4 linked regions of the Homo sapiens genome follow. The protein of the gene in region 4 purifies or fractionates together with the protein of the main gene of each other region. This does not show direct contact. Each region holds a gene or a part of one and is shown on either strand. Other genes may lie near its edges. The genes, in order: IREB2, TOP3B, CIAO3 and CIAO2A.

The links.
Region 1: the proteins of CIAO2A (region 4) and IREB2 purify together in Homo sapiens (affinity purification with mass spectrometry; 3 studies listed by BioGRID and IntAct, with this or other methods). This does not show direct contact.
Region 2: the proteins of CIAO2A (region 4) and TOP3B purify together in Homo sapiens (affinity purification with mass spectrometry; 2 studies listed by BioGRID and IntAct, with this or other methods). This does not show direct contact.
Region 3: the proteins of CIAO2A (region 4) and CIAO3 purify together in Homo sapiens (affinity purification with mass spectrometry; 4 studies listed by BioGRID and IntAct, with this or other methods). This does not show direct contact.

Annotation. Positions count from the first base shown.
Region 1 is NC_000015.10:78,483,208-78,490,231, reverse strand, and holds part of IREB2 (iron-responsive element-binding protein 2), read right to left. Parts: intron 6,915-7,024; coding exon 6,798-6,914; intron 5,472-6,797; coding exon 5,312-5,471; intron 4,528-5,311; coding exon 4,392-4,527; intron 2,500-4,391; coding exon 2,415-2,499; intron 2,053-2,414; coding exon 1,896-2,052; intron 1,586-1,895; coding exon 1,461-1,585; intron 1-1,460. UniProt on the Homo sapiens protein: RNA-binding protein that binds to iron-responsive elements (IRES), which are stem-loop structures found in the 5'-UTR of ferritin, and delta aminolevulinic acid synthase mRNAs, and in the 3'-UTR of transferrin receptor mRNA.
Region 2 is NC_000022.11:21,979,777-21,987,051, reverse strand, and holds the start of TOP3B (DNA topoisomerase 3-beta-1), read left to right. Parts: upstream 1-4,264; 5' UTR 4,265-4,322; exon of another isoform or gene 4,323-4,638; intron 4,639-7,275. UniProt on the Homo sapiens protein: Releases the supercoiling and torsional tension of DNA introduced during the DNA replication and transcription by transiently cleaving and rejoining one strand of the DNA duplex.
Region 3 is NC_000016.10:730,989-738,012, forward strand, and holds part of CIAO3 (cytosolic iron-sulfur assembly component 3), read right to left. Parts: intron 6,342-7,024; coding exon 6,198-6,341; intron 5,411-6,197; coding exon 5,278-5,410; intron 3,884-5,277; coding exon 3,749-3,883; intron 3,360-3,748; coding exon 3,241-3,359; intron 2,440-3,240; coding exon 2,310-2,439; intron 1,386-2,309; coding exon 1,313-1,385; intron 715-1,312; coding exon 577-714; intron 13-576; coding exon 1-12.
Region 4 is NC_000015.10:64,083,828-64,090,851, reverse strand, and holds part of CIAO2A (cytosolic iron-sulfur assembly component 2A), read left to right. Parts: intron 1-536; exon of another isoform or gene 537-654; intron 655-2,000; coding exon 2,001-2,165; intron 2,166-7,024. UniProt on the Homo sapiens protein: Component of the cytosolic iron-sulfur protein assembly (CIA) complex, a multiprotein complex that mediates the incorporation of iron-sulfur cluster into extramitochondrial Fe/S proteins.

The sequences.
Region 1 (7,024 bases), about 14 Mb from region 4:
ATTTTTGCCCAGGCTGGTCTTAAACTCCTGAGCTCAAGCGATACGTGGGCCTTGGCCTCCCTGAGGGTTGGGATTATAGGCATTAGCCACCATGCCCAGCCAAAACAGTGTGTTCTAAAAAATCATGATGTTTTTGGACAGAATGATTAAAAATTTGCTCCTCAAATTCTAGCATACCAGATGTTCAGGAACACTCCAAGGGGCAAGTTTCAATATAAACAGAACATAAAGACTTCACAGAGTCCAAAAAAGTTAAAGAATTTAGAAAGATTTCTATATGTTGCTACAGAGAGATTAAGCATGTATGAGGTATGCTGTTAATGTCTAAGAATGTTATAATGGAGAAAAACCTCTGCTTTTTCAATGTATTTGTTCCACATCAACGCCTTCAAACTACAGCCAAAAATCTCACCATTTCTTAGGCCAGGCACAGTGGCTCACGCCTGTAAACCCAACACTTTGGGAGGCTGAGGTGGGCGGATCACTTGAGTCCAGGAGTTTGAGACCAGCCTGAGCATTTTTTATTTTTTATTTTACAAAAAATAAAAAATTAGCTGGGCCTGATGGTGAGCGCCTGTGGCCCCAGCTACTCAGGAGGCTGAGGAGCAGGATTGCTTGAGTCCAGGAGGTTAAGGCTGCAGTGAGCTGCTTCAGGCCACTGCACTCCAGCCTGGGTGACAGAGTGGGGTGCCATCTCCCAAAAAACACCAAAAAATAAATAATAAAAAATAATAAATATTGCATAATTTAGCTAATTATTCTCTTTACAGCTTATTTGCCTCTCCCCAGGAGAATTTTGTGTTTTGTTCAATGATGTATTCTGAACACCTAATCAATTCTTTCTTTTCCCCCCTCAACTGTTATTTTAACTTCTGGGGTACATATGCGGGATGTGCAGGTTTGTTACATAGGTAAATGTGTGCCATGGTGGTTTGCTGCACAGATCATCCAATCAACACTAATGAATTCTGATCCTCTAAGACATTTTCTTTCTTTTTTTTTTTTTTTTGAGACAGAGTTGCACTCTTGTTGCCCAGGCTGGAGTGCAGTGGCGCGATCTCGGATCACCGCAACCTCCGCCTCCCAGGTTCAAGTGATTCTCCTGCCTCAGCCTCCTGAGTAGCTGGGATTACAGGCATGCGCCACCAAGCCTGGCTAATTGTTTTGTATTTTTAGTAGAGATGCGGTTTCTCCATGTTGGTCAGGCTGGTCTTGAGCTCCGGACCTCACGTGATCAACCTGCTTCAGCCTCCCAAAGTGTCGGGATTACAGGCGTGAGCCACTGTGCCCAGCCGCCATTTTCTTTTTAACTACAGATTCCAGATACAAACTTACTATTACACATTAAAAACTGTATTCAAAATAATGTAATTTTAATTTTTATTCTATTCAGAAGATATATGAAATAAAAGAACACTGCAAATTGATTAAACTATTTAAGAAACACATAAGACTCTTACTTCTATTTTATCTTTTAATGCTTTAAACATGGATAGTATAACATGTTCTTCCTCTACTCGATGAACTTCTTCTCGACTAGGCCAAATATCATGCAGGTAAATGTTCTTGCCGGTGGGGTCAGTACCTGGTTAAAATTTTTGAACATGATACTCAGTAAAAAAATAACTCTGAAAATGTTCATACCTTTTCAAAGACATATCATGGAAATCAAGTAAATGATTCAACAGGGTGCTTCAGGCTTAAGCGGCTGGAAGAACTAATTACCTGTACATTTTATTTTCTTCACATAAACACAGAAATTAATAACTATACATTATCATACGTCTTCCTGAAATAATTCAAAGAATAGATGGTCTAAGAAACATTTCAAAAATATAACGACTTCCATTGGGAAAAGTATGTGTAGGTATACATATACATAAAGGAAAAGATACCTAAAGGTTCTGTCTGGAAATCTATATTCACTGTGCCTGCTATGGCATAAGCTACCACTAAGGGTGGAGAGGCAAGATAATTGGCACGAACACAATCACAAAGACGACCTTCAAAATTTTTGTTTCCAGATAAAATTCCACAGGTAACCAAATCACCCTGAAAAAAACACAAACACACAAACAAATAAATTCAATTCTAGAGATGGTACAAATCTGGATAATCATATATAAGCAATCTTAAAGTCTGAGGGCGAGATTAACCAAAAAACATATTACTAATTTTTAAATATAGAACTATGCATCTTGCAAATAAACTAAATCAATTCCTTGTATTATGAAGGAATTATTTCAAGGATCTACAAATGATTCATTGAATCATTTAAAGATTCACAGGTTACTATTGCCAAGAGGTGCAGAGTTTACAGAAATATAAACACATCAATATATATTTTCTATAATTTAGTAACAAAACATAGTTAAGAAAATCATTTAGATGTCTTGCCAATCCACACATTTTACCTGTTTTACTGCATTTAAAACTGCGTCTGATAAGGGTGCTGTATTTCCCACACAAATTGAACATCCATAGCCAACGATTTCAAATCTGCATTTCAAAAAAAAAGTGACTGAATAGCACATCACAACATTTATAGAGAAAGGACAAGTCTTATCTTGTATTTCTATCACTGTAATAAGATTACTTAAAAGACTATTCATGACACATGGATTAACCTTCATCAATATATTCACCTCAGAAGATTCTGAGCAATCAAGTCTAACTCTCAGGCATGCTATTTGAACCAGCTCACTGCAGCCTTAACCTCCTGGGCTCAAGCAATCCTGCTCCTTGGCCTCCTAAGTAGCTGGGGCCACAGGCGCTCGCCACCAGGCCCAGCTAATTTTTTTATTTTTTGTAAAATAAAAAATAAAAATGCTCAGGCTGGTCTCAAAGGTGAATGCAAACCTTTGAAGAGCCTTAATAGCACTTATCACTGTACAAGAGAATTCCCCCAAATACTACTTGCTAGGAATATAACATGACCTTTTAAAATAATTGATACTGTACTTCCATCCAAGAGTTTAAAATGTAAAGAGGACCTGGCTATAATAACCTGACCAAAGGTCCCAAAAGAGGCATTGATTGTAATTGGGCACTCTGATAGGAGTAATCTCTCAATTATCAACCAGTTAAACCCAAGAAGAGTCTCTGACAATAAATCCAAGATAATATAACCAAAAGATTACAGGCACAGTCCTCTAAATTACTTTCAGATGCTATTCTAAAAGCAAAAAAGTCTAAAATTTATCAGTTTTGCAATGGAATTGATGACTCATATGTTCCAAAATACACACCGAAAATATAACTAGGCTGGGTGTGGTGGCTCAGGCCTGTAATCCCAACACTTTCGGGGGCCAAGACGAGCCGATCACTTAAGGGAACAAGTTTGAGACGAGCCTGGCCAACACAGTGAAACTCTGTCTCTGCTAAAAACATAAAAATTAGCTGGGTGTGGTGGTGCACACCTGCGGTCCCAGCCACTCAGGAGGCTGAGGTAGGAAGACTGATTGAGCCTAGGAGGTCGAGGCTGCAATGAGCTGTGATTGCACCACTGCACTCCAGTGTGGGCAATAGAGCAAGACACTGTCTCAAAACCAAAAAATCCCCACACAACTAGCATCAATTGTTTTGGATTACATAAAAAACATAGGTTACTTTTTTTTTTTTCTTTTTGAGATGGAGTCTCGCTCTGTCGCCCAGGCTGGAGTGCAGCGGCACGATCTGGGTTCACTGCAACCTCCGCTTCCCAGGTTAAAGCAATTCTTCTGCCTCAGCCTCCTGAGTAGCTGGGACTATGGGTGTGCGTCACCACGCCTGGCTAATTTTGGTATTTTTTGTGGAGACGGGGTTTCACCATATTGGCCAGGCTGGTCTCAAACTCCTGGCCTCATGATTTGCCTGCCTCGGCCTCCCCAAGTGCTGGGATTACAGGCGTGAGCCACCGCGCCCAGCCCAAAAAACATAAGTTACTTTCTCCAAAGTTCAGGGACAATTTAAACTTATGTATTATAGACCCAATAACCTCATAAAACTAAAATTAAGACAATTTTCAGTTAATAAATGCAAACTATAAGATTTCTTTCTTTTTTGAACTGACCTACACAACTCACAGAAATTGTGCATACTTGGTATCGTTTCTTACACTGTAACTGTTATTTGGTTGTACTTGTTTGTCTTGTCTTCCCAACTAAGTATCTTGAAGCTAAGACCACATCTCCTACTTCTGTGTATCCAACCTGGTGCTTTGCTCATTTGATATGCCCAATAAGTGTTTCCTGAGTGATAAGGCATCAAAAATTGTATGGTAATGGCAAGGTAGCAAGTAAAACTAAAGCATATTTTTTCTATCTTCTCTTTGTATATGAAAGGCACAAACAAGCAGCTTCAGTACCTACTGAACACCAATATCAATATGAAGTGCGATAGCTGTTACTTACCCAAGCTTACTTAGATATGGTAATACTCCACTTGAACTGAGGTAATGTGTAACCATCCCACTGCCTGGAGATAAACTTGTTCTTATATAAGGTTTAACACGCAGACCAGCTTCAACAGCCTTTTTAGCCAAAAGACCTGCACAGCCAACAAACAATGATTTATTATGGCAATGTTTCTTTCCCTCTCTCACCCATATTAAAGTAAAAAGTGAGAAGTAATTTATTTAACAGATTAAAGTATGAATTCATAAACTTACTGTCATTATTTTGTCCACTTTATTCTACTGATTTGCTTCATTTACAACAAATTTAAAATTACAGCCTTTATGTTGAAAATTATTAAGATACAGGCTGACATCATTCACACAGAGTAAACAAAAGGTGCACATATATAAGTACATGTTAACAAAACCATTTTTTCTCTTTCTTCTTTTTTCTAAAGCAAACCATTTTAAAGTCATAATTACAATAAGAGCAATGTAACACATTATACATGGTTTTATACAACTAAGGAATTGTTCCAATGGGCATACAAATTAATTTCATTTACAATCCTTGCCAAGACAATGATCTTTTACTACTTTTATAACTTTTAATGAAATCTACCACACTGTTATGGTTAACTTCTAGATAATCAAGAAATACCTGCTAATTAACTATAGTTCTAAATTAACAAGAGAAGCAGATACAACCTAAAATTAATTGACAGGTAAGTTATAGTAAACAGTAAATTTACCTTCGGTGTAATAAAAACAACATAAATCAAACTCAGGCTCCTTAAGACCTAACTAAAATACTAGAAAGTCTCTCAATATCAAATGTAGACACTCATGCATCATCTAAGAAACAAAGTTACAATAACAGAAAAGCCAACAATAATTAAGGAAAAAGAAAAAGTATGGCCATAAACCACAACCCACCTGCAGCAAGCATGACAGATGGATTGCAATTATTGGTACAACTGATAACTGCAGCAATGACCACTGATCCATGAGACAGCTTATATTCACTTCCTTCATAATGAATGGAGACAATATCCTTTTGTTTTTCAGCTGCAATTTGGAAGCCTTTAAATCCAACCTATACAAATTTCCACAAAAATATAAACTAAATATTCTGGGTATGTACAGAATAAAAGACTGGCAGAAAACATAGCAGATACCGGACATTTGATGATTTAACATTAAAAATCCTTTTTGTGAGTGATGCTAAAGGCCCATAACATTCAGTAGTTGTAATTCAGCTGAAGCATAAATCTGCATGGGCACGACAGGAGTCTGGTGATGTTCACAAGCAAAACTTTTATCTACTAAGCGAGTCCAGCCTACCACCCAGAATCCAGATCTCATTTGGCTTTGTTGTTCTTAATCATCCCTGTTTATAGTAATTCTCAAGAGATGGCAGAAATTTTTTTCTGTTAAAATGACCCCGAAGATTTCCTCCAAAGGGATCCTATGTGTGTGAGTGTAGCATAGCTGAAACAAGATTGGCTATGAGTTGCTAATTATTGAAGCTAATTGACAGGTACATGGCAATTCAGTGGACTATTTTGTTTTTGTACAAGTTTAACACTTTCTGAACAAAAAGTCAAGAAATCATAAAAAGAAAGGCTCTGAAAGGAAAGCCAAGTACTAGAGATCTCAGAATAGAGAAAGTGACAAGACTAAAACTGTGATTCTCAGACAGAAAATACAAACCCTCAAAAGCCAGAGACCACTTGCTACTCGGTCACATTTACCAAATTTTATGACTGTAGGCCAGGTGCGGTGGCTCATGGCTATAATCCCAGCACTGTTGGGAGGCTGAGGTGGGCAGATCACTTGAGGTCAGGAGTTGAAGACCAGTCTGGCCAACATGGTGAAACCCTGTCTCTACTAAAAATACAAAAATTACCCAGGAATGATGGTAGACTCCTGTAATTCCAACTACTTTGGGGGCTGAGGCAGGAGAATCGCTTGAGCCCGGGAGGGGGGAGGTTGCAGTGAGCCGAGATTGTGCCACTGCACTCCAGCTTGGGCAACAAAGTGAGACTCTGTCTCAAAAAAAAAAAAAAAAGTTTCTGTGATGATGTAACTATTCAATTATCTATGCTGTTCATCAATACAAGACCCATATGTATTCAGCATTTAAAAATGAGACTACTGTGACTAAGAAACTCAATTTTAAATTGTATATAATTTTAATTTAAATAGACACAATCAATCTCTGATCCTCACAATGGAACTGGGAACAAGCTTACCTAATGACTGACTTGCACATTAGACAGAAGGAAAATAAGGGGGCTGCTGGTGTGTGCCATAATATATAAAACATAGCAGTGAATTGAGTTTATGGGTCACCTTGTTGGTTCTTTACTACTTAGCACAAAGCGGGTTGAAAAACACGGATAAGAATAAAGTAACCTACCTTTTCATTTAAGCAAGCCTGGAAATCGCTTTTCATATCTGTCACAGCAACTCTATCCTGAGGTCTTTTTGGACCACTAACAGATGGAACTATTGAATTCAGATTAATCTGGATCACCTAAGAAATGAGAAAGAGAAAGAACAAGGAATTAGAATTAATTCCTTACGACAGATTCCAATTGAAGCATTACTTTCTAAAGCAGAGTAAGTATATTCGTATTTATTTTA
Region 2 (7,275 bases), on a different chromosome or scaffold from region 4:
GCTCACGCCTGTAATCCCAGCACTTTGGGAAGCCAAGGTGGGCGGATCACGAGGTCAGGAGTTTAAGACCAACCTGGCCAACATGGTGAAACCCCATGTCTACTAAAAATTTAAAAAATTAACTGGGCGTGGTGGCGCACACCTGTAGTCCCAGCTACTCAGGAGGCTGAGGTAGGAGAATTGCTTGAACCCGGGAGGGGAGGTTGCAGTGAGCCGAGGTCGCGCCATTGCATTCCAGCCTGGGTGACAGAGCGAGACTCCGTCTCAAAGAAAAAAAAAAGACATGTTGAGTTCAGGTCATAGGACAGGCTGCCAAGAGCTGTTTCTCCATGTACCCTGCAAATGACTTGGGCTTCTGTGACGTTTTAAGCTCCACCCACTTCTGGGGACAGCAGAGTGACAGAAGTCCCCCTCCCAGACAGGGGAGAAGGATGGCCTCAGCACACAGCCAGTCAATTTCCTGTTCTTCAGCGCAGGTTTCATTGCCCTTTTATTCAAACTTCAAAAAGTAATCTTGGCCAGGCGCGGTGGCTCACGCCTGTAATCCCAGCACTTTGGGAGGCCAAGGCAGGTGGATCACAAGGTCAAGAAATCAAGACCATCCTGGCCAACATGGTGAAACCCATCTCTACTAAAAATAAAAAAATATTTAAAAATTTAAAAAATTAGCTGGGCTTGGTGGTGTGTGCCTGTAGTCCCAGCTACTCGGGAGGCTGAGGCAGGAGGATCGCTTGAACCCAGGGGGTGGAGGTTGCAGTGAGCCAAGATCGTGTCACTGCACTCCAGCCTGGCGACAGAGCAAGACTCCTCTCAAAAAAAAAAAAGTAATCTTTAAGGCTGTGCACGGTAGCTCATGCCCATAAATCCCAGAACTTTGGGCAACAGAGTGAGACCCCGTCAAAAAAAAAAAAAGTGGCTTCTGGAACTAGGTTGCTCTGCCACTTCCATCATTGTGTCCTGCTGGTTCTTTTTTTTTTTTTTTTTTTTTTTTGAGATGGAGTTTTGCTTTTGTTGCCCAGGCTGGAATGCAATGGCATGATCTTGGCTCACTGCAACCTCCGCCTCCTGGGTTCAAGCGATTCTCCTGCCTCAGCCTCCCGAGTAGCTGGAACTACAGATGTGCGCCACCATGCCCACCTAATTTTTTGTAGTTTTAGTAGAGACGGGGTTTCTCCATGTTGGTCAGGCTGGTCTCTAACTCCCGACCTCAGGTGATCCGCCCGCCTCAGCCTCCCAAAGTGCTGGGATCACAGGCGTGAGCCACCGCGCCTGGCCTATGTGTCCTGCTTCTTTATGTGTAAAATAAGGATAATAATAATATCTAATTCCTAGTGTTGTAATGAGGATTGTGTCAGTAACAGAACAGTGCCTAGAACAGAGTAAGTAAGCACTGCATGATGTTAACTATTAATAGTATTATCAAAATCATGGACCAGCCTATGCCGAACCAGAGAGAAGAGAGGTCCAGGAGCCCTCAGTTATCCCATCCACCATAACCAGGCACCTGCCCAGTAAGTGAGGAGGGTAAGGAAGAGGAGAAAAGTCAAGACCATGGTGGAAACACCCCAGGGCTCTGCTTCCTGAAGTCCCATGGCGGTGTCTGGGCACCTGAGTTTCTCTCATGGCCTCTGCACACTCCTTAGAGGAGGCCTCTGCAGGCAAGTCTGCTGCTACTCTTTAGGGGAGTCAGTTTCTCCCCAGCCATGGGGAAAGAAGAACGGCCCCTCTCGCTGAGTCGATCCTAGGCCACCATCTCCCTGGTCAGAGTGGAGCTGGGGTTGGGGGGAGTCCCAATAGGGAGACACCTCCAAGTTGAAGGGTTCCTCTGAATCTGGGTCATTTGTCAACCTAAGGGTCAGTCAGAAAGCCTGACCCAAAGCTCTGGCAGAGGGTCAGCTGCAGGGCTCTCCGGGAAGAAAGCACAAGGCAACTGCAGTTTCTCTGCTCTGACCAAGAACACTTCCCGACGCCCTGGCCTTCAGAGCTGACCACTCAGCGCCTCCTGCTGGCCCAGGCCTCAGGTCCTTCCTAGGGCTCCATACAATGAACTCTGGAACTGGATTGATGGAATGAGCTGAGGGCCTCTGGGTTTCTCTTTCAGCCAACTGGTAGCACCCAACAGAGCCAATCTTAGCCCTGGCTGGTATGTGGAGAACACACTGCAGGGCGGCAAGGTGGAGACCTGGAGGGAGAGGAGGAGCTCGGATCAGGGTGGTGGCAGGGAGGCAGGGAGACTTGAGGGGATCTCCGATATACAGTCTTCGATTTAGGACAATTTCCACCTACAGGATTTTTCAACTACAAAACCAGTATGCATTCTGCACGCTTCTTGACTCATGATGGGGCTACATCTGGGTAAGCCCATAGTAAGTTGAAAATACCATAAGTCAAAAACGTACTTTCGAGTCACAATATTTTCAACTTAAGATGGGTTTATGTGGATGTAGTTCCATCTGAAGTTGAGGAGCATCTGTATTGTAAAGACAGTAATGGCAGGATTTGTGGGTGGTCCAGGATGCTCCCAGGCTCTGTCCCTGAGCAACCAGGAAGATGGAGTTGCCATTTTGGAGACGAAGAACCTACCAAGGTGTGGGTTTGGAATCAGGAGTTCTGCTTTGAAAGTGAAGTCTCACCGTGACTCATAATTTGTGACATTTCCAAACCTTAATTTGCCTATAGAACTTTTCTTTTTCCAGAGCCTCTATCCAGACTACTTATTATTTATCAAAATAAATTAGATAAATAAATAACTTAATTTTAGAATTCATCTTCCAGATATACTTTACACAGATCATTCCAATAAAGGCAGGTTGGGGCCCGGGACAGTGGCTCACCCCTGTAATCCCAGCACTTTGGGAGGCCGAGGCAGGAGGATCACTTGAGGCCAGGAGTTTGAGACCAATCTGGGCAACATAGTGAGACCCTCCCCCTAGACCCCATCTCTACCAAAAAAAAAAAAATTAATTGGCTGGGCTTGGTGGCTGGCACCTGTGGTCCCAGCTACTGGGGAGGCTGAGGTGAGAGCATCGCCTGACGCCAGGAGATCGAGGCTGCAGTGAGCTGTGATCTCGCTACTGCGCTCCAGCCTGGGTGACAGAGTGAAACCCTGTCTTTAAAAAAAAAAAAAAAAAAACAGCAGGTTGGGAAAATCTACAAGGAACAAGGGCAATGTGTGTATGTTATTTAAAATAAGATCATAAAACGTATTTTAAACCTTCCATAATCCTAATGCTCTAACAAATAAATTAGTTGGCCGAGCGTGAAGAGTCACACCTGTAATCCCAGCATTTTGGGAGGCCGAGGGAGGCGGACCACCTAAGGTCAGGAGTTCAAGACTAGCCTGGTTAACACGGTGAAACCCCCGTCTCTACTAAAAATATAGAAATCTTTGGGAGGCCAAGGCGGGCGGATCACGAGGTCAGGAGATCGAGACCATCCTGGCTAACACGGTGAAGCCCCGTCTCTACTAAAAAAATACAAAAAATTAGCCCGCGTGGTGGCAAGCGCCTATAGTCCCAGCTACTTGGGAGGCTGAGGCGAGATCATCGCTTGAACCCGGGAGGCGGAGGTTGCAGTGAGCCGAGATTGCGCCACTGCACTTCAGCCTGGGCAACAGAGTGAGACTCCGCCTCAAAAAAAAAAAAAAAAATATATATATATATGTATACACACACATATATATACATACACATATAAATTAGCTGGGCGTGGTGGCGCACGCCTGTAATCCCAGCTATTTAGGAGGCTGAGGCAGGCGAATTGCTTGAACCTGGGAGGCGGAGGTTTCAGTGAGCCGAGATCACACCACTGCACTCCAGCCTGGGCGACAAGAGTAAAACTCTGTCTCAAAATAAATAAATAAATAAATAAATAAATAACTTAATTTTAGAATTCATCTTCCAAATATATTTTACACAGATCATTCATTCATTCCACAGATTTTTTTACAGCATCGAAAAGAAGCCTGCTATACACACATCGGTACATTTTTATTATTTTAATTATTAACAGCATAAATGTTTTCATGCCAGTTTTCATAATCATTGTAATGATAATTGTCATGATTGTCTCTCCGTGGCGGGGAAGAATCTGGGTGCAGGGCTTGGGGATCCCTGCGGTCCGCGGCGTGCAAGTGCCACTCCCTGGGGTGCTCCCGGAATCCGCGAGCCACGGAACCTAAGAACGCCGACCCGCCGGAGCCGGAGGGCAGACGCTGGCACACCGGACGCGGGGACGCCAGAAGCGGCTGGACCCGGAAATAGGGGTTGTCGGTAGCCGCCCCGGGAACAAGGACCGGAGCTGGATCCGCGGTGCGGCTGTGGGTGAGCGGCGGGCTGCGGGACCCTCGCCCGGCGGCTCAGAAAGGCGGGAAGCGCACGCATTTTTCTGGCTTGTTTCCTGAACGTTGGCCGGCGGAGGACCCGCGAGCTCGGGAGAGCGCCCGGGCCGGGCTCTGCATTCTTGTTGCCTCTTCCCTGGCGGGGGTGATACTCTCCCGCGGGGCTTGCTGTGGGGGTTCAGGGAGGTGGAGATGGGCCCGCCATGTGCCTGCAGGGAGCAGGCGCTGTGGTTAATACTTTTCTTCTTCGAACCCTCCCACAGCTCTTTAGGGTGAGATCTGCTGTACCAGTCTCACAGGTAGGGAAACTGAGGCTCAGGGAAGCTGTGCAGCCACCGGGGCCCAGATCGGTGCGGTACACACCCAGGCAGCTTCCACTCGCCGCCCCCTAGGCCCTGGCTGGGTTTTGAGGGCACCCAGGTTCTCTGACCTGTTATCTGTAAATGAAGTAGGGTACTTTTGTGAACAAATTAGCTGGAATCCAGGGGCAATAATTTCTCGCAGAAGTGAAAGGTAAGATGTTCCTAGTCTTGCCTTTTTATCTTCTCACCTTTTGAAACAGGACCTGAGAGGCCAGCCTAACTTGGGCTTGATGGCCAGCCAGTCCTGGGATTCTTTTGCCAAGGTCACCTGACACTAGTGTGACTTGTTCTGAACCTCCATTTACTCACAGTTTTAAAAAATTACAACACCTGCCTTATGGGGTTGCTGGCGAGATTGAATAGTGTTGATAGCTATGGTGTGCCTACTACAAAGGAGGAGCTTAAGAAATGGTTGTTTCCCTCTTTTCCTGATTCTAGAAGCATTTGGTAAAGTTACTGAGGTGGTAAATCCTAGGAATTTTAATGCTATTCAGACCACTGCTAGGCCTACTCCCAGGCCACATCTGCTTGTTTCTTTTTTTGTTTGTTTTGTTGCAGGCAGAGTCTCACTCTGTCACCCAGGCTGGAGTGCAGTGGCGCGATCTCAGCTCACTGCAACCTCCGCCCCCGGGTTCAAGTGATTCTCCTGCCTCAGCCTCCTGAGTAGCTGGGATTACAGGCATGCGCCACCACGCCCAGCTAATTTTTGTATTTTTAGTAGAGACCAGGCTTCACCATGTTGGCCAGGCTGGTCTTGAACTGCTGACCTCGGGTGATCCACCTGCCTCAGCCTCGCAAAGTATTTGCTCACTGTCTATTTACCGTGAGAATGCACAAAGCAAAACCCGTGTTCTCCTGCTGCTTACTTACTTTCTAGGAGCTGTAAGACAAGAGCTGAATAAGTAGATGGAAGCTGTACCAAGTGTAGTGATGAGTGCTACAAGGAAGCAAAGCTGGGCTGCTGTTCCATCAGAGTGCTCACAGAGGCAGGACAGGATCAGGCTTGGGGCACGGGTTCTAGAACAACCAAGTCCAGCCACTGGAGCTCTGGTCTCTCTGACCCCACAGTCCCAGTCTAGGCCAATAAAATGGCAGCACCTATTAGCATCCCTGCCTAGGATGCTGGCAGGACTGCCTGGTCCCTGGTGTGTCCTCATTATGTCATACATAATTGCTGACTACTCTGTGGCATAGACATGAGAAAATCTGAGGAAACATTTTAGGACAAAATTTCCTACTTTGGAAGAGATGGGAAACTCAGACCCTCACAGAACAATGCCCCTCTGCTGCGAGTTTTCCCTTTTGGCCTCTGGCTTCCCAGGGTGAGAGAAGGGGAGTCCCTAAATCTCTTTTAAACCTCACTTCTGGGCCTCTGATTTTGGTAGAATCAAAACTTCCCCAGAACGGAGAGCAGAGGCCAGTCATAATCACCTTGGTTGTTCATTCATTCCCTCAGCAGGCATTTAGTGCATGCTGGGTGCCAGAAATATGGCAATGAACCTGACAATTGTGGGAGAGACAGACTGCTGACGCCAGATGCAGTCTTCAGGAGGGGAGGGGCAGGGGTCAGAGCAAGTAGACTAAGGGGGAAAAGTGGCCTAGGCCGAAGCCTGCTGGCGCACAGGGAGGAAAGGTGGGTGCGCAGCAGAGCCTTGGGAGATGCAGCTGGAGCTGTCATGGGCCAGAGAGCTCATCTGCAGACAGTGTCGTCATTCCACAAGGCCTCGGCTCTTTCACTGTGGGATGGTTGTACATTTAAGGGGAACATCCACTTACTTATTTTGAGGAAAAAAGCAAATTGTCATTTTATTTGGGACAGCTTTCTGGTCAAGATTACTGATTTCACTGTAGTCCTGTGATCTCTTAAGTGGGGAACAAGGTTGACAGCCCAAGGCCGACCTTGGACCTCTTCCCCTGCACAGCATGATGAGCAGCAGAAGCCCCTTTAGTGAGGGAGTTCCTTTGGCATCCTTTCTGAACAATGCCCTTTACAACCCTCCTTTATTTTTCTGGTTTTATTGTAAAGTCCCTTGTCTTAGTTCTTGTCCCTCAGTCACCTGTGTCCAGGCGCTAAATGTAAAAGGTGCAAAAGGGAATGTGGTGAGGAGGCACCCCCAGCCCTGACCTCCAGGCCCTAACACCCACTCCAGGTGATTGCTTGGACTGTTTGTTTTGCGTTCCATCCAGACATATCGCCTCTTCATAATCAAGTGCACACGTGTGCACACATATGTGTGATCACAGATGGCAGTGCTCTCTACACACCGTTACATGCCCAGCTTTCTTAGCATGATTTATTTCAGTGATCTGATCCACGTTAGTATGTACCAAGCAGATGCTTTCCTTTGTAATGCTGCCAGGTGCTCTACTGTAGAGAATGCCATGCTTTTTTTTTTTTTTTTTTTTTTTGGAGATGGAGTCTCACTCTGTCGCCCAGGCTGGAGTGCAGTGGCGCAATCTCGGCTCACTGCAAGCTCCGCTTCCCGGGTTCACACCATTCTCCTGCCTCAGCCTCCCGAGTAGCTGGGACTACAGGCGCCTGCCACCATGCCCAGCTAATTTTTAGTATTTTTA
Region 3 (7,024 bases), on a different chromosome or scaffold from region 4:
AAGTCTTTGTTCCTGGGGGGCACAGGCGGGGTTTGTCTACATGGCACACCCACCAGGCTCCTGCCTGCCTGGAAGGGGAGGCCTGCTGGGCTTCAGGGGATGACCGGGTACCTCCCAGGGCTCTCTCCCTCTCTCCTGGGCAGAGGGAAGGACAAGAACGGAGAGAGAGGGTGGAAGGCTCACTTCCTTGAGTCCAGCAGGGGACCTCACCTCCAGCCTCGGGCTGTCTGTGAAACAGGCCTCCCTCCCCAGGGATGTCTGTGAGGCCCTGGCCCTCCCTCCTGGGATGTGGTCGCGTGCCTGCGCCAGGCACCCATCACCTTTGCCCATGCTGGCCTCTCGGGCTCAGGGTCACCATCCCCCACAATGGGCCGACTGAGGCCTGGAGTGCTTAGGTGCCTTCACACCCTGAGCCCGCCAGGAGGGCCCTGCCTGGCCCCAGGGTCCCCTCCAAACCCTGCAGGCTGCCCTCCACCCAGCCCACCTCTGTGGGAGGACCCCAGGGGAGGCAGCAGCCCGAGGAAGGCTGGGGGCTGTGTGGCCGCTCTGCCCAGAGATCTGGCCCATCCCACTGACCTCAGGGGTTTGTAGGTAACCTCAGCCACATGGATTCCAAAGAGCTCTCGGGCCGCGTGCCGGAACACGTGCTCCAGGTAGCCCCCCGAGCCCCCTCCCCGATGGCTGGTGGGCTCCTCTGCAGAGGCACCGCTGCACCTGGCAAGGAGGGAGGGGCCTCAGCACAGCTGGGGCTGCTGCCTGCCAACCTCCCGAGCAGGGCCTCTGTCCCTCACACATGAGCGTTTGCATTTCCAGGTGGGAGACAAGTCACAGACACAGAGGAACAGCTCCTGTGTCACCAGCCATCACAGGGGCCCAGCCACTTCTTGTTTTTTTTTTTGAGACGGAGTCTTGCTCTGTCGCCCAGGCTGGAGTGCAGTGGCGTGATCTTGGCTCACTGCAAGCTCCGCCTCCTGGGTTCAAGCAATTCTCATGCCTCAACCTCCCAAGTAGCTGGGATTACAGGGCCTGGCATGGATTACCACCATGTCTGGCTAAATTTTGTATTTTTAGTAGAGATGAGGTTTCACCATGTTGGCCGAGCTGGTCTCGAACTCCTGACCTCAGGTGATCTGCCCACCTTGGCCTCCCAAAGTGCTGGGGTGACAGGCGTGAGCTACTGCGCCTGGCTATCCAGCCACTTCTGTGGACGCCAAGATGGGCTGCGGGGAGGCAAGCCCAGAGCAGGGGGATGCTATCCTCAGAGGCAGCGTTAGAAGCTAAAATAACAGTTCTTGGTGGCAGACATACGTACAGGCTGTCCAGAGGGGCTGGTTCCAGGTCGGGGAGGGAGACGCCCTCTTCCTCCAGCAACCTGAAAACTTCTCCTGCAAAGAAGCCACAGCGCAGACACTCTTTAGCGGAGATCCCAGCAACAAAGTCAGAGAACATCCAAGCCACCTGCATCCCCAGCAGTCTGCACTTTGGCCCCAGAAGGCCCCAAATGTCCACCCTAGCCCGTGGTGGGGAGGCCAGGCCCGGTCACTCCTGAAGCCCCTCTGGAGGCTGCCTGGTCCTGCCCAGGGAGGTGTGCCAGCGGCCAGGCCACTCTGCTCACCCAGTGTCCATCTGTCCATCCTCTTAGGCAGTCTGCTTTTCTTTTTTTTTTGAGACGGAGTCTCACTCTGCCGCCCAGGCTGGAGTGCAATGGTACGATCTCGGCTCACTACGACCTCTGCCCCCCGGGATCAAGTGACTCTCCTGCCTCAGCCTCCCGAGTAGCTGGGATTACAGGAGCACCACCACTACTCCCGGCTAATTTTCGTATTTTTAGTAGACATGGGGTTTCATCATCTCGGCCAGGCTGGTCTTGAACTCCTGACCTCGTGATCCACCCACCTCTGCCTCCCAAAGTGCTGGGATTACAGGCGTGAGCCACCATGCCCGGCCACAGTTTGCTTTTCTGCCTCACATTTGGGAGACTGTGGGGCTGCTCGACTCAGGAATGGGGTGACTCATGGGAGCTGAAGAGGCTGCATTCGAGAATCTCTGCCCACCTCCAAAGACTCATTTCAGAGCCAACAAGGAGGTATTACTGAGCGCCACCTGGCTGCAGGTCCCCAAGACAGGCCAGCTGCAAATGGGCCCACCTGGCTCCAAGGGGAGAGACGAAGGTACGTGCACGCATGCGAGCCCCCACACTCCAGCCAGGGCCCCCACAGGCAGGATCCTGGGCAGTCGCCACCTGTGCCCAGGGCTCAGGAATCAGACCAGGAGGCTTGAGGGCTCAGGGCCGCACGGCGTGACCGCACCTGTTGTGAGGACACAGTCCACATCCCGTGTCTGGTGCTCCTGGTTGAAAAAGTCGGGTCTGGAGGCTTCCAGCTTTTTGTCATAGCAGGGCATCACTGTGACGTGGTAGATCTTGTCAGGGGTCAAGTGCTACAAGGAGAAACAAACACTTGTCTCCCCAATCCCAGCAGTAAGGTGGCTGAGACGGGACCTGGAACTCAGCCATCCTGCAGCCAGGCCGGACCCCGAGGGACAGTGAGCCTCACTCCATTTCCCAGCAAGCCTCCTGCCGGCTCTGCGGATGTGTCCCTGGACAGGACGGGCCCTGGCTGTGACAGAAAATGACACTGACCCATTCCCAGTGTGCCTGCGCTCCCTAACAGCCAAGTCCAGCGGAGGAGAAGTGGCCTTCCCACGGCTCGGGCCGTCTCACTGCACAGCAGCCGGGGAAACGGATGTCACGGGGGAACCAACCAGCTCCAGCCCCGGGTGAAAATCCGCGTGCAGTCAGGCAAGAGGTGCCGCAGGGGACATGGGCGCTCGAGGCCCAGGCACCACCGGGGCCGCCCTCGCCCTCTCCCGCCCCCTGCTGGCTGAGTGTCTTCAGGCTTCTATCCCGCTGGGCCTCAGGTGGGGGTCGTGCTGGGCATCCTCGTGGACCTGGTGGCCGGAGGGGTGGGCTCCAGGCCCGGACTGCCCAGGGCCTCCTGCTCCCTCAGCCTCAGGCCTGGCTGCCTCTGGGTGAGCAGTGAGCACCTCTGGATCAGAACGAAGCCCTCTGCTGCAGAAGAGGAAGGGCCTGAACCAGGAGGGAACAAGGGTGGAGGTGTGCTGGGGAAGGCCGCACAGCACAGCGAGGACTCTGTTTCCTGCAGCCTCATGGCAAGAGGCCAGCAAAGTCACTTCTGGCCGCTCCCCAGCCTGAGTCTGGGGCTGGCCCAACGCCGTTACCTGCTGCTGGGCGAAGAAGTCCTTGACCAGGGAGCCCATGACCTGCTGCGGGGACCGGGCGGTGCTGATGTGGGGGAGGATGAAGCTGCCGTGAGTCTTCTCGGCATAGCAGATCCAGCCTGAGGTGACAGGGGGCACACGGGGCTGGCGGGGGCGCACGGCGGCCCCCGCACCCACAGGCAGCAGCACGACATTCTGGGGGCGGGCCCGCTCATACAGGAGATCATGATGACATTAAAGAGTGCTCATTCCTGTTCTCCCCACCACCACGCGGAGCTCGGCGTGCAGGCGACACCGCCTAGGGACCTGAGGTGACTGCGCGTGGCTCCCACGGGAGGGCAGCCTCTTCTCCAGAAAAGGCCATTTGTGCCAACATTTCCAACCCGTCCCGCAAAACCTGCTTGCGTCTCCACCCCCCATGCCCCCGCCTTGTCATTTGTGTCCATATCACCTCACGTTTCAACTGCACTTGAACTTGACTCTCCCACCACCCGCACCATGAGCACACCTGGGCAGGCAGAGGCCAGCAGGGGCAGCGCCTGTCTGCAGTCGGCCTGTCCTCGGAATCGCCGCACAAACTCTCGCTGGCTCTCCAGGAGGCTGAAGTGCCTTGAGAAGGCGGTGTCGAAGACGAAGTGCACCCCTGGAAGGTGAAGGTGGGTGCCTGGTTAACCCCATGCGGGACGCCCACACGAGCACACGCCGGCGTGTGGACCACCATGGTGCTGCCAGGGCACGTGTGTCGCACCTGCTTGCCGTGCCAAAGCCCCGGCCCCACCGTGGGGACCTCCTAAAGCCACGTTGCGCCAAAGCCCCAGCCCCACTGTGGGGACCTCCTAAAGCCACGTTGCCTCGGCATCCCCTGTGAACCCAGGCCTTGGTTTCCCACCCCAGAGGCAGCCACCCAGCAGCTCAGTCCTCCACCCTCCCAGCTCTTCAGCGTGGCTGGTCCAGGGAATTGCCACGTGCGCTGCTCCCGGTGACCCTCCCTAGGGCACAGCTGGACGCAGCCTGCTGGACTGGCCCCTCGGACCCTGACTGTGCAGACCTACCATAGTGGCCACCCCTCACACACAGCAGGACTCCTGGAACACGCCAGCCAGCTCCAAGCCCAGCCATTAGAACTGCTCAGTAAACCTGCCTGATCGTGCCCTGGACCCAGCAGAGGCACCCGCGTGTGGGTCCCTCTCTCTCTGCCTGACTTGTCATTCCTCCCTCGCGTAACCCGTGGTCGGAGGACTCGCTGTGCCCCACTTGCCCGTCATCATCATCTCTAAGTAAAAATCTTTGAACTTGCTTCCTATTCTGGTGGGGACGAAATCCACACCTTCCATCTGGAGAACCATGGGCTGCCCCAGGCCAGGTTTTCCCTGGGACACCAGGTCAGGCTCCCAGTGCCAGAGCACTGCTCAGGCACCAACTGGATATGGGTCAGACAGGAGCCATGGGGCACCTGCCAGTGTCACCAGGTTTCCAGTGTGAGGGACCTGGGACACAGCTGGATGACAGGCAGTCTGCTGGTTACAAGGCGCACAGGCCTGCCTCACTGGGAATGAAGGGACTGGACATGGTGGTTACCTGTGAAAGGCACACAGTAACCATGAGGTCCAGCCCCTTCATTCCCAGTGAGACACCAGGCACTGGAGCCTAGTTAGCTGGGGGCTCTCAAGACACCCAGATCCTCCCCAAGCCCAGCTCCAGGCACATAACCAAAGTCAGCAGAAGCTGACCTTGGCTGAACCCAACAGAGCCCCGGAGAGAGTGCCTTAATATTATCAGCTAAAAAGTACAAGGAGTTGGTCAGCCCCAGCTTAGAGAAAGTGCACAGTCAGAATGCAGACGTGTTCTGTGAGAAGGCCCTGCTCTCAAATGTCAAATCAAAACTTCAGGCTGAGGTCACAGAGGGAATAAAGTTTCTGTAGCGCTGAAGTTCAGGGCTGGGTAGCGTGTCAGTGACTCAGAGGCGCGAGGGGCCTGGGCTTACTCAGACGCCCCCTTGATTTGGAGCGGCAGTGTTACCCCAGGTTCAAAGCCTACCTATTTTTTTAAAGAATGAGGTTAATTTCCTGGCAGTATCTGTAGGATTCAGCTGAAACCGTGCAGCCAGCGATGCTCTAGACTGTGGTGAGACCGAAACTACAACCAGCCTCTGCTGACTGGGTGCCGCCATCTGCAAAGCAAGGGGAAGACGCTGCTTACTCTGCTGGCCTTATGCTGATTCCTGGTGGCCAGAGCCGCACGGTGAGATGCTGTCAGCTGTGGAGAGGGCAGGCCAGCTCCATCAAGAGTCTTTTTTTTTTTTTTAACACAGAGTCTCACTCTGTTGCCCAGGCTGGAGTGCAGTGGTGCGATCGGAGCTCACTGCATGCAACCTCCGCCTCCCAGGTTCAGCCTCCTGGGTAGATGGGATTACAGGCGTGAACCACCGTGCCTGGCCAAGGGTATCGTTTTTTTTTGATGGAGTCTCACTCTATCACCAGGCTGGTGTGTAATGGCGCAATCTCGGCTCACTGCAACCTCTGTCTCCTGGGTTCAAGCGATTCTCCTGCCTCAGCCTCTCTAGTAGCTTGGATTACAGGCATGTGCCACCACACCTGGCTAATTCTTGTATTTTTAGTAGAGACGGGGTTTCACCATGTTGGCCACGGTGGTCTCGAACTCCTGACCTCAGGTGATCCACCCGGCTCAGCCTCCCAAAGTGCTGGTATGACAGGCGTGAGCCCCCGCGCCCAGTAGGGGTGTCATTTTGATGTATATTTAGAACCTGAAGTTTGGGGCCTGACACGTTCACCACTGGAGCCCACTGACAAATCACCAAGATTCCAAGCCTCAAAAAGGCAGGCGCCACCCGCACGACGGACGTCGGCACCACACGAGCTGCCCTTGGCAAAACGCGTTGTCGGCTGCTGGGATGGATTTCAGGTTAAAGCAGAGTCACCAGGCCGACCACTGCTTACCTTGTTAGCATCTAGAACCTTCTTCAGCTCCTCGTGGCTCTGCTGGGTGATAAGCACGGTCTCTGCGGAGGTGATGCAGCCGCTGCACGCCAGGCAGTCGTTTAGCGAGACCTTGGCCTTCTCCAGCCTCCGGGTCCCGCCGTCCTACAAGGGAGAAGAACCCGGTGCACAGGGGCCCCCTCTGCACGAGGACATGGAGACAGAGGATAGTGGAGTCCAGCTCATAACCGACAACCAACATGGCTGCTGGCTGGGCTTGTGTGCCGCTGAATTTTTAAAAATTAGGTATGTATTACAAAAATGCACACGCACGCTCTACAGTTTCATAATGCCGTCAAGTCTGCTTCTTGGTACCACTTGGTTAGTGCATCCGAATCACAGGACTAAGGCTTGCCACTGGTATCTCAGCAAAGCAGCAGCCACCCCACTCACCCATGGGGCCCTGGACGGGGTGCTGGCCCCGGTGCACACTCACAGGGCTGTAGGGCAGGAAAATGCCGAAGGTGGGCTCTGAAAGGAGGAGGCGGGAAAGCTGAGGACAAAGGAGGAAAGGACGAAGGCACAGGAAGAGGAGAGCAGAGGGAGGAAGCCTGGGAGCCTGGCCTCCGGTGGGCGGGGCAGAAACAACCGTCAGACTCGCCAAACAGATGCAGGAACAAGGTGTTCCAGTCGGGGGCCTCCGGGACATGCCTCAGCAACTTTTCTTACATGCAAAACGCACCCAGCTCGAGCTCCCCCAACTTCTCCTGCAAAGGCAGGAATGGTTTGAGCAGGGCCAGGGGTGCTGCAGTGGCCCGGAATACAGCCAGAGGAGTAAGGCGACTGGG
Region 4 (7,024 bases):
CAATTTCTCTCCTCAAAGTTGCCCTTATCCTTGTCATTGTTCTAGCTTCCTTATAAAGTCATTGTCCTTTTCATGTCCCTCCCTTCCCAGCTAAGGCCCTAGGAAGACATTTTCAGTTCCTACTTGCTTCCCCTTTTGCAAGCTGGCTTCAGCGCACGCACTCTCTACTGAAACTGCTTTCTTACAGCTGGCTGGGGTGACAAATGAAAGACCTGTTTTAGCTCTCATGAGCCTGAATTTTTCTGCAGCATTTAATGTTATTAACCATCCCTCTCTTCCCTCCTCTAGTTCTTTTTGCTTTTGTTTCTCATTCTGATCCCTAAGTTAGGTGCTTCGCATGGATCTGTTGGGTCTCTTTTTTCTTTATACCACTGATTCTCATACTGGGTTGTACCTAAGAACAACCCGAGAAATTTTTAAAACTCAAAGGCCAGCAAACCAATTAAATCAGAGTCTCTGGAATTGGGGCCCAGGCATCAGGTTTTTTTGTTTGTTTGTTTTTGTTTTTGAGACGGAGTTTTTGCTCTGTTGCCCAGGTTGGAATGCAATGGCGGGATCTCGGCTCACTGCAACCTCTGCCTTCTGGTTTCAAGTGATTCTCCTGCCTCAGTCTCCTAAGTAGCTGGGATTACAGGCGCCCGGCACCACGCCTGGGTAATTTTTGTATTTTTAGTAGAGACGAGGTTTTACCATGTTCACCAGGCTGGTCTCGAACTCTTGACCTCAGGCGATCCACCCGCCTCAGCCTCCCAAAGTGCTAGGATTATAGGCCTGAACCACGCGCCCGGCCTTGTTGTTTGTTTTGAAACATTCTTGGTAATTCCAATGTTCAGCCAAGGTTCTACTTATTCTTTGTGAATCCTGTGGGTTTGACAACCACTCTAGCTTTGATGCTGTTTTAAACTCTATGCTACAGTTTACCACTTGCTAGAAAACTCCATTGGATAACCCCTTAAGCACCTCAAAATCATTCTGTGTGAAATTGAACTCATTTGCTCTATGCCCCACCCAAATTTCTTCCTCGTTCTGTTTCTTTTAGTTCTGCCAGTGTTGTCCTAGATACTATTTTAGGCCTGGTGTTTTTAGCTGGTATCATTGGTTCTGCTTTTTAGTCTGAGTCTAGCAGCTGATGATGAGTTACCAGCTGACAGCACAGTGTTGTCCATGTCACTTGTCTCAAACCTCTTGAGGACTTGCTATTGCCGGTAGCTGGCTGTAAAAGACACTTGATGGTCAGACCCAAATCTCATACTCTAAAACACCTTTCACTTATGCCTGCTTCCAGGCAAACTAGGGTTCTTCTTCTTTACTTTACTTTCCTTCACTTTTTTTTTTTTTTTGAGACAGGGTCTCGCTTTGTTGCCCAGCCTAGAGTGCGGTGACACGATCTCCGCTCTCAACCTCTGCCTCCTGGGCTCAAGCGATCCTCCTGAGTGGCTGGGACCACAGGCCTGCACCACTACACCCGGCTAATTTTTGTGTGTATTTTTTGTAGAGACGGGGGTCTCATTATGTTGCTGAGGCTGGTCTCGAACTTCTGAGCTCAAGTGATCCTCCCGCCTTTGCCTCTCAAAGTGGTTGGTTTACAGGTGTGAGCCACCATGCCCAGCTACTTTCCTTCACTTTAAATGTCAAATATTGAAATGTTACCTATTTTTCAAGGCTTGATTCAGATTCCGCTCCTATAAAGCCTGATAACCACATTCTTTCAAGCTGAAAGTTATTTCTTCCTCTTGAGCTTCCATGACACTGTTTCCATTCTTATTATATTTTCTCTGCAATGTCCGATTGGAGAAACTGGATATGGTCTTATAATAATCCAAGAAAACAGTTTTCTCAAGAGGAAACCAGTAGTGAAAATTTCTGTCAGAAACCTGGGAGTTGCTGTACTATTTGCTTAAACGTAAGAGAAGTCAGTGCTTAAATTAGGCCTGGCAAAATCATCTTTATTTAGAATAGTCATGTTTTAATAGAATATCTTATCTCTGATGATTCTTTAGATTTGATTAGAACTATCCGGGACCCAGAAAAGCCCAATACTTTAGAAGAACTGGAAGTGGTCTCGGAAAGTTGTGTGGAAGTTCAGGAGATAAATGAAGAAGAATATCTGGTTATTATCAGGTTCACGCCAACAGTACCTCATTGCTCTTTGGCGACTCTTATTGGTAAGTTTTTCTGTACATACATGTATATTTATATAAATTCTAAGTTATTCTTGCTGATATTGACCCATAATAACAATTTGCATCATTGTTGAAAAACCATACAGTGTATGTATTACACTTTATGGTTTACAGAGTATGTTCGTGTATTCATCTTCTGTAGTCCTCACAATTAGCTTGTTGAGTTAAAATATTATTATCTTCATTTTGCAGATGAGGAACCTGAAGCTCAGAGAGTTTAAGTGACTTGCACAGAATCAGGTAGCCAGGAAATGGTGAAACTAAGGCTCATACCCAGGTCTCCTGACTCCACTTCTCCTTTAGTTATGTCAGGCTGCCCCTCCCAGGTATATATGCCCACAATTAATGGAGAGTGCATGTGGGCCAGTGCTTTTCCTCAGTTCTGGAGGTTGGAGTGGGTGGTGTCAGACTAGCATTGCTTCCATCACCATCTCCTTTCAGTGACTCTTCTGGTTTCTACATAGTATGGGTAGAAGTCCTGGTAGGAGGTTGGATTCCCAGTATTTTGGATTTGTTAGCAGGTACAATAAATGTATTTGAACATATGCTTTGTTATAAAGGGATTTTATTTCAAACCAAATGTTCATGAGTAGGGGATTGATTAAATAATCATTGATGGTGAATATAAACAGTGGAATACTATGCAGCTATAAAAAAGAATGAAGAAGCTCTGCATGTACTGATATGGAGAGATCTCTATGACATACTGTTAAGAAATAAAAGCAAGTATCATTTTGCTATCATTTGTGTAAAAAAAGCAAAAACATACATTTGTATTTGATTGCATATGCCTGAATAATATTAATACATAAATGAATAGCTATAAGGGTGTTAGCGGGTAATAGTGGTGGTGGGAGCTGGGCAGATGGGGGAAAGGGTGGGAGGGAGACTTTATACCTTTTTATGTTTTTACATTTTCAAACCATGGGACTATCTCACCTATTAAAAAGCAACAAGTTTATAAAAAAGATTGAAAAGGTCGCTATTTCGTTATTATTTCCACTATTGTGATTTCTGTCTTTTCTCACTGGTTGACCTGGGTTCCCTCTGCTGGTGGTTTCCACCATATAGGCCACATCTTGAGGGACTGGAGGTCTGTGAATCCATAGGTATTATTGTGGTTATTAAAATCCCATTGGTGACCGGGCGTGGTGGCTCACACCTGTAATCCCAGCACTTTGGGAGGCCAAGGTGGGTAGATCACTTGAGGTCAGGAGTTTGAGACAAGCCTGACCAACATGGTGAAACCCCATCTCCACTAAAAAAAATACAAAATTAGGCCGGGCGCGGTGGCTTACGCCTGTAATCCCAGCACTTTAGGTGGCCGAGGCGGGCAGATCACGAGGTCAGGAGATGGAGACCATCCTGGGTAACATGGTGAAACCCTGTCTCTACTAAAACTATAAAAAATTAGCCAGGCATGGTGACGGGTGCCTGTAGTCCCAGCTACTCAGGAGGCTGAGGCAGGAGAATGGCGTGAACCCGGGAAGCGGAGTTTGCAGTGAGCCGAGATTGCACCACTGCACTCCAGCCTGGGCATCAGAGCGAGACTCTTATCTCCCAAAAAAAAAAAAAAAAAAAAAAGCAAAATTAGCAAGGCATGGTGGCACACACCTGTAATCCCAGCTACTTGAGAGGCTGAGGCAGGAGAATTACTTGAACCTGGGAGGCAGAGGTTGCAGTGAGCTGAGATCATGCCATTGCACACCAACCTGGGCAACAAGAGCAAAAACTTCATCTCAAAAAAAAAAAATTCCCATTGGCATGGCGGCTCACACCTGTAATCCCAGCACTTTGGGAGGCCAAGGCAGTGGATCACTTGAGGTCAGAAGTTCAAGACCAGCCTGGCCAACATGGTGAAACCCCATCTCTACTAAAAATACAAAAATTAGCTGGGCATGGTGGCACGCACCTGTAATCCCGGCTACTCGGGAGGCTGAGGCAGGAGAATCGCTTGAACATGGGAGGTGGAGGTTGCAGTGAGCTGAGATTGCGCCACTGCACTCCAGCCTAAGCAACAGAGTAAGACTCTGTCTCAAAAAAAAAAAAAAAAATCCCATTGCTAGAAAAAGCATTACTGAATGCTGAATGCATGGTTATTTTTGGTCATTGGACAATTTGTGAACGAACAGATACTGAAAGTACTGCTGTGGGTGTTGTGGAGGGGGTGTCTTAAAATATTTTGACATATAAGAAAGAGTTCTTAAATGGAGAGTTCAAGAACCTATAGCAAATTTATTTATTTATTTATTTTTTGAGCTGGAGTTTAACTCTTGTCACCCAGGCTGGAGCGCAATGGTGCAATCTTGGCTTACTGCAACCTCCGCCTGCCAGGTTCAAGCGATTCTCTTGCCTCAGCCTCCCAAGTAGCTGCAATTACAGGCGCCCGCCACCATGCCTGGCTAATTTTTTTTGTATTTTTAGTAGAGATGGGGTTTCACTATGTTGGCCAGGCTGGTCTCGAACTTCCAATATCAGGTGATCTGCCCACCTCGGCCTCCCAAAGTGCTGGGATTACAGGTGTGAGCCACCACTCCCAGCCAGCAAATTCATTTTTAAAATTAACATTTATTTAAATTATATGAGTAACATGTTTATTGGCAGTAATTTTGATACCCCACAAAAACATAAAGAAAAAAACCAGCTATTATGAAAGAATGTCACTGGGTGCAGTGGCTCACTCTTGTAATCCCAGCACTTTGGGAGGCCGAGGCGGGCAGATCATGAGGTCAGGAGTTTGAGACCAGCCTGGCCAACGTAGTGAAACCCTGTCTCTACCAAAAATGCAAAAAATTAGCTGGGCGTGGTGGCGGGCGCCTGTAATCCCAGCTACGTGGGAGGCTGAGGCAGGAGAATCGCTTGAACCCGGGAGGCGGAGGTTGCAGTGAGCGAAGGTCACGCCACTGCACTCCAGCCCAGGCTACAGTGCGAGACTCCGTCTCAAAAAAAAAAAAGAATATATGCTCTGGGCTAAAATTCCAGGTCTATTGGCTGTACCGTATTGTGGGCTTCGGCAAGTTACTTAACCTTTCCAAGACCCAGTTTCCTTATCTGTAAAACAGGAATAATAAGGATATCTATAGAGTCGTAAGAGTTAAGTAATAGCATGAAATACATGAATTATTTTTCTCATTAAATATTTCTTTTTTTAAATTTTTTTTGTTGTTGAGACAGGGTCTCACTCTGTCACCCAGGCTGGAATGCAATGACACGATCTCGGCTCACTGCAGGCAGCCTCCACCTCCCGGGCTCAAGTGATCCTCCCACCTCAGTCTCCTGAAAAGTTAGAACTTCAGGCAGGTGCCACTATGCCTGGCTAGTTTTGCCATGTTGCCCAGGCTGGTCTCAAATTCCTGGGCTCATGCCTCAGCCTCCCCAAGTGCTGGGATTACAGGCATGAGCCACCATACCTGGCCATCATTAAATATTCTTTAATTATATAGTTATAGGTTACATGCTAATCATATTGGTACATCAGAAGTTTTGTAACCATTTGGACTACTTCTAGCCTTTTGCAATTATAAATAATACTGTGATGAGCAACTTTATTTTATTTTATTTTATTTTATTTTATTTTATTTTATTTTTTGAGACAGAGTCTCACTTTATTGGCCAGGCTGGAGTGTAGTGGCCACTGGAGCTTCCACCTCCCAGGTTCAAGTGATTCTCCGCTTCAGCCTCCCGAGTAGCTAGGATTACAGGCATCCTCCACCAAGCCCAGCTAATTTTTGTATTTTTAGTAGAGACGGGGTTTCACCATGTTGGCCAGGCTGGTCTCGAACTTGTGACCTCAAGTGATCTGCCCTCTTTGGCCTACCAAAGTGCTGGGATTACAGGTGTGAGCCACCGCGCCTGACCGAACAACTTTATATATAAATATTTTTATTTATTTATTTTTTGAGACGGAGTTTCACTCTTGTTGCCCAGGCTGGAGTGCAATGGCATGATCTTGGTTCACCACAACCTCCACCTCCCAGGTTCAAGCGATTCTCCTGCCTCAGCCTCCCAAGCAGCTGGGATTACAGACATGCACCACCACACCTGGCTAATTTTGTATTTTTAATAGAGATGTGGTTTCTCTATGTTGGTCAGGCTGGTCTCTAACTCCCAACCTCAGGTGATCCGCCTGCCTTGGCCTCCCAAAGTGCTGGAATTAGAGGGGTGAGCCTCCGTGCCTGGCCTTATATAAATATTTTTATATATCTCATTATTGCATCAGGATAAATTCCTATACGTGGAATAATTGGGTTAGATTATGTAAGTATTTTGAAGCCTCATGGTATATATTGGTAAATCCCTATCTGGAAGTTTATACTGTTTGACGCAGGAGTTAAGGAACTAATTTTATAGAAGAAAATATTCGCCAGACGTGGTGGCCCACACCTGTAATTGTAACACTTTGGGAGGCCGAGGCGAGAGGATCACTGGAGCCTAGGAGTTTGAAACCAGCAATCTCTTAAAAAAGAAAAAAAACATGAAAAAGCTTGAATAAGTTCAAATTGCATCATGATTGCAGTTATAGAAAAATGTGTACGTGGACAAATATCAGGAGAGTGCATGAAATAAAAACTGTTCTGTAAGGGTGCTAACATTAGATTATAGTTGATATTTCAGATCTGTACACTTCCTGTAGAAAGTTTTGTCTTAGCCCTTTCGTTATGCATTTCAGCTAAGACCATTGGCTTTTTATTTTTTATTTTTATTTTATTTTATTTTATTTTTTTTTGAGACAGAGTCTTGCTCTGTTGCCCAGGTTGGAAAGCAGTGGTGCTGTCTTGGCTTACTGCAACCTCTGCCTCCTGGGTTCAAGCGATTCTCGTGCCTCGGCCTCCAAGTAGCTG